Linked DNA regions of Homo sapiens: region 1 is linked to region 2. The links come from fine-mapping of genetic effects on gene expression. A gene starts in region 2. The other region holds a variant in brackets. All regions are shown on one strand. Distances are from middle to middle.

Region 1 (5,386 bases), 190 kb after region 2:
GTAAAAAGGTCCTAAAATAGCAAAGAAAATATGAATATTTCGATCCAAATTTGGGTTGGAAAAATGAAAACAAAATGGTAAAGAAGGGGCTCCATTAGGCTCAATAGGGAAGTGATTTATTAATTATTACATAAATTATTCTTGTGCTATAGAGATCAGCCACATAAAGTATAAAAACCCTTGCTCAACTGGTCTCTTACTTTAATTTAGAAAAAGATGTGAATGCAGATATATATATGTAATTATATATATCAGAATTTATTAATATATTGCATTAATATATAATGTATATATTTTATATTATAATAACATATATGTGCATAACATATCAATAATACACACACATACACACCTGTCACATAGAGAATAACACACATTCAAGTGAAAAAGAGAATGATCTAAGAGCATTTTGGAAAGATTTCCAAGATCAGCCACATTTTGTGAATCTGCTTTTAGTTGGCTAAGAATTTTTTTGAAGAACTTAGTCTTCAGAAAGATGGGATGCAGGACACTGTGCTAATTTCCTAGATAAATAATTGTTTTTTAATCAGAAAATTGTTTAAAATACAGATAACTTTCAACAAAGCAAAACTGAAAAAGAAAATGGAATTCAAAGATATGAGAAAGATGGAGCTAAAGTGGAAGAATGCTATGAAGAAGAGAGCATCAGATGACAGCTTTCTAAATAGCGAGGTGACATGCTGATAATTCAATGTGATGCCAAGATAATAAAAATGCATAAGAGCACTGGCCCAACAGACACATGCTATTATGGAACAGGAAACCTGTACCCTATAGCTCCTATTTATAAGGTAAGGTGAGCTGCAATCTGGCATCCCCCTTCTAGGTTTGAATGCCCCACGATCAGAAAGATGCTGATAACTGGAAATGAAAGAAGAAACCAACAACAAAAATGATTAAAGAACTTTAGGGTGCATGAGGAAAGATTAGAAGAATAAAATAGCCCTAGTTTTACTGTGATAACTAGGAAGGAATATGCATGATCACTATCTACGAGTGCTATATCAGAAAGTTGTAAACACTAAGGAGGCAAAGGAATAATTTACAGTACTGTGATACCAAGGTGTATGTGGCTAAGGGTAATAGGATAGAATTACACTTTGCAAAATATAATTTGAAAGCTTAGGATATATTTTAGAAAAGTTAATTGTGCACAAACTGTTTTACATGCCCAGAATGTTAATCAGCTGCATCCTTTCCCAGGTGATGCTCTATCTCTGCCTGCACCTCTACCTCATCAACAAACACTCAAGGAAAAGCACTTAGCTGAAGTCTAAATCTCCCAAAGGAAATGCTGCCTTAGACTTTAGGTCTTAGGATTAGGTTCTCCTTCTTTATCCTCAAGGCATAGATACACACTAATTGGCTTTCTCCCCTCTAAGCCTCACGTAGGTTGAGGACCCAGGCCAAGGAAAAGGGAGCCAGAGTTAGAAACCTGGAAGTTATGCTGGTGTAGCAGCAAAGAAGTCCTATCCTAGCTCTCCCTCAACCTCCTCCAGGTAACCAGCACTCTTAGAAGGTGTCCAAGTGCAGTTACTAAAGCCCTAGAAGATTATGCCGTGGTCTCAAAGAGGATCCAAAGATTATGCACTGAGAACTTGAAGAAATTATTAGAAACCCTGTGTATTTTGTATCTCACTCATTTTTATTCCTATTTTTATATATTTTACATTTATAATATATTAGTATAGTTTATAGTAAGTTAATATAGCAGTTCATTATTATTTATATATTATTCGAAAATTTTAAAAAATGTGTATGTGAGGTCCTGTGACCAATTATTATTATTTTAATAAATCTGCTTTTACTGGAGAGAAGAGAGACTCCTGGAGATTAAAGAATTCTACCTACCACTAGGCAGTGTCAGTAAATATCAAATGAGATCAAGTGTGTTTGTTTAAGCCCTTTGGAAAGTTAAATTTACTATACAAATGTAAAGAAGGATCCTTATTGAAAGGATTAGAAGGAGGGAAAGTTTAGCATTCCTTTCCTTAGAAAAAGACAATCACATAAAACCATCTTCTGAATGTAAATGAAAGATTTAGCCCTATATGTGAGGCAAATACCAAATCTTGGAAATGTAACTTCTCCAAGGAACATACTTGGGAAATTGCAGGGGGAATATTGAGAAGAAAGACTGTAGAAAAAAGAGAAAAAGAGAATCTGGAAGATGCATAGCGTGAGGATAGAAGAAGTATTTTGAGATGAGGTAAAATGAGAAAAATGAGGAGAAAGCAAGCTGTGATGCTGCTGCAGAGGATAAAGATAGCTGTTATAAAGGCAGAGAGCTAAGAAGGAGAAGACCCAAGCACTCTGTTTTTCTTTTGTTGTTTTTTTGTTTGTTTTTTTAGTTGAGACTTTTTCTTATCAAAAGTATTATCCAGTCACTTGTACACTCAACCAATAGGAGATAAACATATTTTTGCAAGCAACTTTACGAAATGATTGCATACCAACACCACCAGCACCACAGCTACACACATCACACATTTATGTAGTGCCTTCTAAGTTAAAACTACTTGCATGCACATCATTATTACATTGGCTTCTGGTTGTGAAAGACAGAGAAGTAATCTAGCAAAACGAAATAAGTCTTAAAATATGACACAAACACATATAATTATTTTTAAAAATGGGCATAAGAAGTAAGCCTTGGTGAAATTTTCCAATTTTAGTTTATCTTGTGGACTGTCAAGACTGAAAATGAACCGGTCTAAATTCTTCACCATTTATGAACAAAGTATAGCCATTAAATACTGTCTTATACCTCTAGAGCAATGTTAGAACAAACAAACCATATTTTATATGAGTGTTTTTAACTCCTGTCTCTGGGCCAATGTCTCATAAATAA[G/T]CTAAAAAAGGTTTTTGAGTAAATGCAATTGATTGAGGCATGTGCACTGTTGGTAAGATCAGTTTGGCATTTTAAGTCTGACATGTTATCAAATTGCTAAATGTATGGTTGTGAAAATCTAACAGCTGACTGCAGAGCCACTGAACAATTTTGTAGAATTTCTCCTGTTCTAATTACTGAATATGTTGAACAGTGTTAACACCACTCATGAACTGAAATGTTCTGATTTAATAAAAAGACAATCCTTGGGTAGGGTCAAGCTAAATCCTAATGTCTACAGATTTGGCGAAACAAGGACAGAATGTGTACATTTATGTGTAGGGGTTCTCTTTAAAACGTATTTTTAATGATGAAAAATATCTCCCCAATAGTTTTCAAGTGTTACACGTAAACCTTTTGATAAGAAGGTACAAGCTTATGCATAGACGTCACTCTCCTCTATCTTTTTAATTGAGCAGTCTCTGTATGACTATACGAATCATAAGAGGTCACTTTAGAAGTATGTGCCTATCTGAAAATAACAACTCTATTTTACTGTCAGGCAAGTGTTGTGTTCACCTTCAGGAAGCAGGGCAAACACATGATTTTAAAAATAATTTTCCTATTGGCCGCTATTGCTTCATTGATTCAAACTGTGGACCTCACTCTTACTTAGAATATGATACATTTCCTTAAAAGAAATTTCCATCACCTGATTATAGTACACAATTATAAAGGATCATCTTTTTAAAATATTATTTTCTTTTAGAATTCTGTTAAAATTTAATTTTAAAAAAGCTTAGAAAAATTCATCCCTGACATTCTGTTTACTACTTTAAAGATTACGGGTTTCTAATATACTAGCCTAGCATTAATTTTTAAAATGGAGGAAATTATTAACTGATTTAAAAAAAGATACAGAAGAATTAAATGAAACATCCATATTTAAATAAGTTGTTGGTAATACTCAGATAATAAAAGATATTTTGAAAGCTACTGAGAATTCAAAGGAGACTGATATAAATGGTAAAAAAAAGATTATAATATAGGTTGGAAAATAATTTGGGAGAAGACGGATTAATCCTTAGATTCACTCATCAATTTTGTAGAAAGGCAATGGTGTTAAATTTAGTTTAGGAGGCCAAAGAATTGCACATTCTTCTTTCCTTTATGAGAATGAGATAAAGAACAAGAAAACAAGCTGAAATCAAAGAATCAGTCAAAAGTAAAAAGGGTGACAAGCTAAGATCAATGAGGATCAGTTTTAATTCCTCCTATTTTACCTGATAATTGCCTGGTTATTAATTTTGTAGTGTTAATTAATATTACTCATACTTAATGAGGCACTGCAAAATTCTGAGTCATTAAGGAAAGTCAAAGTATATTTCCATGTTTACTGAGAAAACAAAGAATACTTCTTTTTTAAAATTTCAATAACGGAAGTGCAACAAGGAAAAATGACACAAAGAATAACATTCACTTAACCATTCACTGATTTAACTGGTATTTATATGGAGCACCCACCATGTATCAGCAGCTCTGTAGGTGTAATGAGGTTACAGGAATAAACAAGACTAGAAATTTCCGTGAAGGTCATAGAGCTTAAATTCAAGCAACCAGAAAAAAATTACATTGCTCATTATAATTCTCTACCAGATTTCTAAGCTGATTCTGTTTTTTTCTGTTTTGTTGTTTATTTTATCATTAGCAGCAAATATTCAGAAAAAAAAAATCTTTAATTTTATGTCAGAAAGTGCAATAACATTATTGTTTCCTATAATCCAAATTTGTTTCATAAAACTGTCACACTGCACCATTCCTTGAATACTTCTTACAAATTGAATCTTGTATGACTGCTCAAGAAAACTATCCAAACAATGTTAAAAAGCAGAAAAGACACAAGAGAGAAAAAGGACTAAGAAAAACAGAAGAAAAGAGTAACCCTACTTAATAGAAAAAGAACATTTTGCATAGTGAGTGTTTGGCTTATTATTCATGCCTTCACCTCCCAGCCTTCTGAGGGATGGAGTACACATGCACAGATTGGGCATACTCCATTTGTAAATGTGTTACCAATTACATTAGTCAGTAAAATTTCCCTGTAACTATAACGCTTGGGTCCCTGCTAAAAGGGAGTTTAGAGAACACTACCTAGATCTAAGGCTGAAGGGCATCCTCTGACCTCCCATTCTAAATTAGAATTTGAAAGCCACAGAGGAGTGTGTACCTCCTTTGAAGAGCACACACCGTCCCATGAAAACCACTCTCAGGGTCTTGCCCAGAAGTGCCTCCAGCATAGGGTTTGGAAGCAGATAGTCGAAGCATAGCAGCCCCAGATGTGAAAGCAAGGAAAAAGTGCTAGCTGTGCCTGAGTGCAGCAGCTGAAAGAAAGGTAAAATAGGACTTGATTTTTGTGACTGTGGAACAATAGCTTTTGCCACTCATGACACGTGACTCAGTGGATAGATGTCAGGGTCTGATTTATCGGATTCATCCTCTCTCCTCCTCACTTGGAGTGGAGACAGTGATAGGGTG
Region 2 (5,386 bases):
TACTTCATATTACAGTATGTTAAACATATGTTTTCTCCAAGCACCACCAGGCAAGTTCTTCTGGTAGTATGAGGTTACCAGTATAGGTATTAGCTAACAATCATGTATAAACATCTTCTGTTTATGATATGCTACCAGCCACCATACTTCCTCCTTGTCCTGAAAAAAACTTTCCTTTCTTCATACAAAATCTAGTTGACTGACACAGGAGAATACTTATACTCTTTAAATGTCTAATCCTTCCCCTCAGAGTATCTCTGCTCTTACTGGGGGTCATACTATTCACCTAGCACCAGCAATGGAAACAGATGATTCTCATAGCTACCAGTCCCTTTTATCTCTCTTTTCTTCCACTTGACATGGAAGAAGCACCAAACCAAAGGATATATGTTAATCGAAGCCTTTGTCTAAGCCAACTCTTCATTCCTAAGTGCTTAAAATCATCATTCTCAGTAAACTATCGCAAGAAGAAAAAACCAAACACCGCATATTCTCACTCATAGGTGGGAATTGAACAATGAGATCACATGGACACAGGAAGGGGAATATCACACTCTGGGGACTGTGGTGGGGTGTGGGGAGGGGGGAGGGATAGCATTGGGAGATATACCTAATGCTAGATGACGAGTTAGTGGGTGCAGCGCACCAGCATGGCACATGTTTACATATGTAACTAACCTGCACAATGTGCACATGTACCCTAAAACTTAAAGTATAAAAAAAAAAAACAAAAAACAAACAAACAAACAAAAAACAAAAAACAAAACAAACAAACAAAAAAATTAGCCTGACAAGGATGGTCAAGTCTGTTGGTGGTGTGGGGAAAGGGAGGGTGCTCTTTTCTCTGCAATCTTGGCAGAAAATTATGTAATCCTTGCATCTTTGATCTTCGTTTGTTTGTTTGTTTGTTTGTTTGGCACTTGAAGCTCATTTGTCCATTGATACCGGGATTCACAGGATTATGAGTTTTTTAGTCAACTATCCACTTGGCCTAACTATTTCTCCTATGGCAAAATGGATTCCAAGTTTTAAACAGCTGAGTTATAACTTAGTGGTCGAACATTGGTTTATTAACTGGGCACTGTGTATAATCCCTGACATAGGACACCTTGATTTATATAAAATGAATGCACAGTACACATAAAATTAATTGAACTCCATCAATCATGGATTTGTGACAATTCAGGTTCCAATCCTCCGTGTTTTCTTAAAAGCAAAATAGGTCTTCCTTTTTTTCCTCACGTAATCTGTAAGAGTTCATCTATCTTTTAAACTGAAAACATGCGCAGAAAAAGTGCTTTGAGTATTCTGAGGACAAGCCAGTTTCAGCACAGTGTTTCTTTAAGGCTTGTGCTCTGGTGGGGTTTGATAAGGATTCCTAAACATGTTTCTTTCTTTCTTTTTATTTTATTTTTGGCAAATGTCCTAGGCTAAACATTTGCTTACATAAGAGGGATGGGTATAATATCTATGTACATATTTATTTTTATATATATGGAATATTTATGGAAAGATATATAACAAACTTAAAATATATGTTGCCTCCAAAAAAGAGAAATGGGTTGCCTAAAGACGGGAATAAGAAGAAAACTACGGCCGGGCGCCGTGGCTCACGCCTGTAATCCCAGCAGTTTGGGATCCCAGCAGTTTGGGAGGACGAGGCGGGTGGATCACGAGATCAGGAGATCGAGACCATCCTGGCTGACACAGTGAAAACCCGTCTCTACTAAAAAAAATACAGAAAAAATTAGGCGTGGTAGCGGGCGCCTGTAGTCCCAGCTACTCGGGAGGCTGAGGCAGGAGAATGGCGTGAACCCGGGAGGCGGAGCTTGCAGTGAGCCGAGATTGAGCCACTGCACTCCAGCCTGGGCAATAAAGTGAGACTCTGTCTCAAAAAAAAAAAAAAAAAAAAAAAGAAGAAGAAAACTGCAATTCACTCTATAGCATCTTGTACCATTTGGTTTTTGTACCATATGAATACTTTCATTATTTAAATAAATATAATCAAAGAAGAGAAAAATAAAGTCCTTGGCTGGTACAAACACATTTTTTATCCTCAACATCAGTAATGAGGGAGATGTCCAAGAGTGTGGGGCTGTCACTTGAGTGACTATCAGTGGTCTTTATGGTCCTCATCACTTGCTTGGCTCATGGAATAAAAGGAGTGACAAATGATGGTAACCTGTCTGCCATTAGCAGGAGTACTGCACACAACCTTACTTAGTGTCTCCTTGCAAATGACAAGCTTTCTGATTTACAAATCTCCTTCCTTGCATATGAACATTTTGAGAAGTAAGTGCCAGGAGGAACTTGGGTAGCAATTCAATGTGCCCTTTAAATAGTAATCCTTAATACCATTACTCATGTGTAGGATTGAGTGAGAGTTTCCTGGAGAGTGAAGTTGATTTAGGGATCAGGGATCAGCTGCTGAGGCTGGCACTTGGAAAAAACAAGCCAAGCATTCACACCCCAGACCACTCAATACCAGCATTGTCTCCAATCCATCTTTCATAAAGGGGTTCCAAGAGGGGGAGGGGATGAAGGAAGGAGAGAAAATAAACCATTTTAATCCTGTAAGAGAAAGTGCAGGAAAGAGGAAAGAATGAACAAGACTTGAACACGCAAAGCCAGTTGCCAAGAATGTTTCGTTTGAAATCAACTTTGGCTTTTAATCTTAGACTCCACTGTCAAGTTTCTCCTCAGTTTCCTTCTCCCATCTTTCAGGACATTCCCCACCCTCACTCCCCACCTCAAAGCTTTCCTGTCCTCTGTCCCACTCCCCTCATTTGCAACTCTCCTTCCCACCTCCTTTTTCTTCTTTCCTCACCCCTTCCCTCTCCTTTCCTGGACTCTTTCTCCTGTTCTTTTATAACTTAAGTCCCTCTCCTTCTCCCCTCTCTCCTGAACAGTACCTCTAAGCTCCGTTCCCCCTTCTTAAGGAAATCAGCCAGGCCTCAGATGGAGCTGTCGTCCTGACAACCCAAAGGCGCATCAGGCTTTCATTGAGGCTGGCTGCTGCTGAAGGGGGCAGTTGTGCAAAGCGAGGGGCCACGTCGAGGGGAGGGCGGAGGGGATGACGTGGAGGGGCTGTTGAAAACCAGCAGGGTGGGGGGAGGGTGGGGGGGTGGGGGGGAGGTGCTGAGCTGAGAGAGCGCCAGGGACTGGGAGAAACAGGAAAGGGAGGAGGGGGAGAGAGGCTCTGGGTTGCTGCTGCTTCTGCTGCTGCTGCTGCTGTGTGGCTGTTTCTGTACACTCACTGGCAGGCTTGGTGCCGGCTCCCTCGCCCGCCCGCCCGCCAGCCTGGGAAAGTGGGTTACAGAGCGAAGGAGCTCAGCTCAGACACTGGCAGAGGAGCATCCAGTCACAGAGAGACCAAACAAGAACCCTTTCCTTTGGCTTCCTCTTCAGCTCTTCCAGAGGGCTTGCTATTTGCACTCTCTCTTTTGAAATTGTGTTGCTTTTACTTTTCACCCTTCTGCTTGGGTTTTATGAGGGCTTTGTTAAGTCTTAGAGGGAAAAGAGACTGAGCGAGGGAAAGAGAGAGGCAAAGTGGAAAGGACCATAAACTGGCAAAGCCCGCTCTGCGCTCGCTGTGGATGAAAGCCCCGTGTTGGTGAAGCCTCTCCTCGCGAGCAGCGCGCACCCCTCCAGAGCACCCCGCGGACCCGCACCTCGGCGTGGCCACCATGGTCAGGAGAGTTCAGCCGGATCGGAAACAGTTGCCACTGGTCCTACTGAGATTGCTCTGCCTTCTTCCCACAGGACTGCCTGTTCGCAGCGTGGATTTTAACCGAGGCACGGACAACATCACCGTGAGGCAGGGGGACACAGCCATCCTCAGGTAGGGCTTTCGGGCAACTTTTCTGCTGCGCGCGTCTACACGTGTGTGTGTGTGTGTGTGTGTGTTTGTGTGTGTGTGTGTGTGTGTGTCTGATCTCCTTGAACTCCAGCTCCTGATGCTGCAGGCTTGTGGTGTGTGTGTGTGTGGTGTGTGTGTGTGTGTCCCTGTTTTACTGACTGGTTGGCATTATAGCTAACAAAATTCAAGGGAATTCTGGTCCCTGTCAAGCAGCAGTGGTGTTGGTTAAATGTTGTTCGGTTCTTAGGACCTTGTTTCTCTTATCAAGGAAGCCTAACTTCACCCATGGCATTAGTGACTTCTGGGCAGTATTCTCACTATTGTAATTGCTGTGGCATTGCACTTGAGAGTTTTGTTGGGGGTCCTTAATTCTGAAAGAAAGGTTGTTGGATTATGGCTCTCAGAGAGTAGTACACAGTACTGCATTCTCCTTGCTCCTCCCGTGTCTGTGTGTGTGTGTGTGTGTTTTTCATGCCAACACACACACACACATACACACACACACACACATATCAAGGTTGTGTGTGAGGGTTTCTGATAGAAGACTTTCTGTAAGGATCTTCTAATTGACATGGAGGGCAATAAATCAATCTTAGAACTTTGGTTGGTTACTGAGCCTTTCCTGGAATGTGGATATAAATCAACACAAGATATGAAGAGCAGAAAGAAAAGGAATTTGCCAAATTGCTGATATTTAAGAGTAGGAGTGTTAAACACAGAGGTTGGGAGAGAATTAACCTGGCATAAAATGGATATTTCAAATTGATTATTGACTTCAAAGTCTTTTTTTCTGTGCAGCTCTGGCAAACTCTAAAATAATTTGAGATTGAAATTTGGAAAGAAGAGTCCCAAGTCCTTGGGAGTTTGACCCCTATCAGGTACTGTGAGCTAGAGAGACTCAAATGAGACCTAGTCATATTTTTATTTCTAAAATGCTCCAAGGTTATTTTTTGTGCTTCTCTTTTCTCTTCCTCCTCTCCACCAACTGTACCTACCCCTTGTTCTTTTTTCTAGCTTTCCTTGAATTTCTGGCAGATGCTAACAAAAAGAAAGAATCACTCTCCTTGGAGATCTTTTAAAAATCTCATTTCCTCCAAATAAAATGACCCAGTGTCAGTCTGTCTATCTAGGTAATATTGCTTGTTGTGGCAATAAAAACACAGTATACAATAGAAAATAAACCTCTAATCTGTGTGCAAGGAGCTGATAGTGCATAAACCCTGGGGCATCAGGGAGCAGTTCTCTAGCAGAGCTGCCGACAGCAGCAAAGTTTTCTTTCCTTTTCTCAGAAATAAATTTGGTTGGCTGTCACAGTGTCCTGCTTTGGGAGCTCTAGCCTTGTTAGAGACGAAAGTGTGTGTTGTGTGCCGTGCATTGCATGTGTGTGTGTTGTGTGGGTATGTGTTTCTCCAGATTGTAAAAAGTAAGAAAATGCTAATGTGTAAGCACTCCTTTCTTCATTTCCTGAGCTTTGGGTGATTACGAATCCCAAAGATCCTACTATCCAAAGCAGATTTTCCCTTCTAG

The links. PIP is the estimated chance that this variant, and not a neighbour inherited with it, causes the effect.
Region 1: its variant is the best candidate, but not a certain one, in a credible set for the expression of LSAMP in sigmoid colon (GTEx, PIP 0.71).

What each region holds. Positions count from the first base shown.
Region 1 is chr3:116,256,768-116,262,153 of GRCh38, reverse strand. The region is part of intron 1 of LSAMP (limbic system associated membrane protein); the gene reads left to right. Among named protein-coding and RNA genes, the nearest start is that of LSAMP-AS1, 100 kb to the left of the region's middle. RefSeq lists enhancers at 1,687-2,578, 4,810-5,366. The variant G/T (reference allele first, on the strand shown) is at 2,873.
Region 2 is chr3:116,443,332-116,448,717 of GRCh38, reverse strand. LSAMP (limbic system associated membrane protein) reads left to right here and starts at 3,231. Exons shown (of 7, transcript NM_002338.5): 1 at 3,231-3,841. The coding sequence starts at 3,687.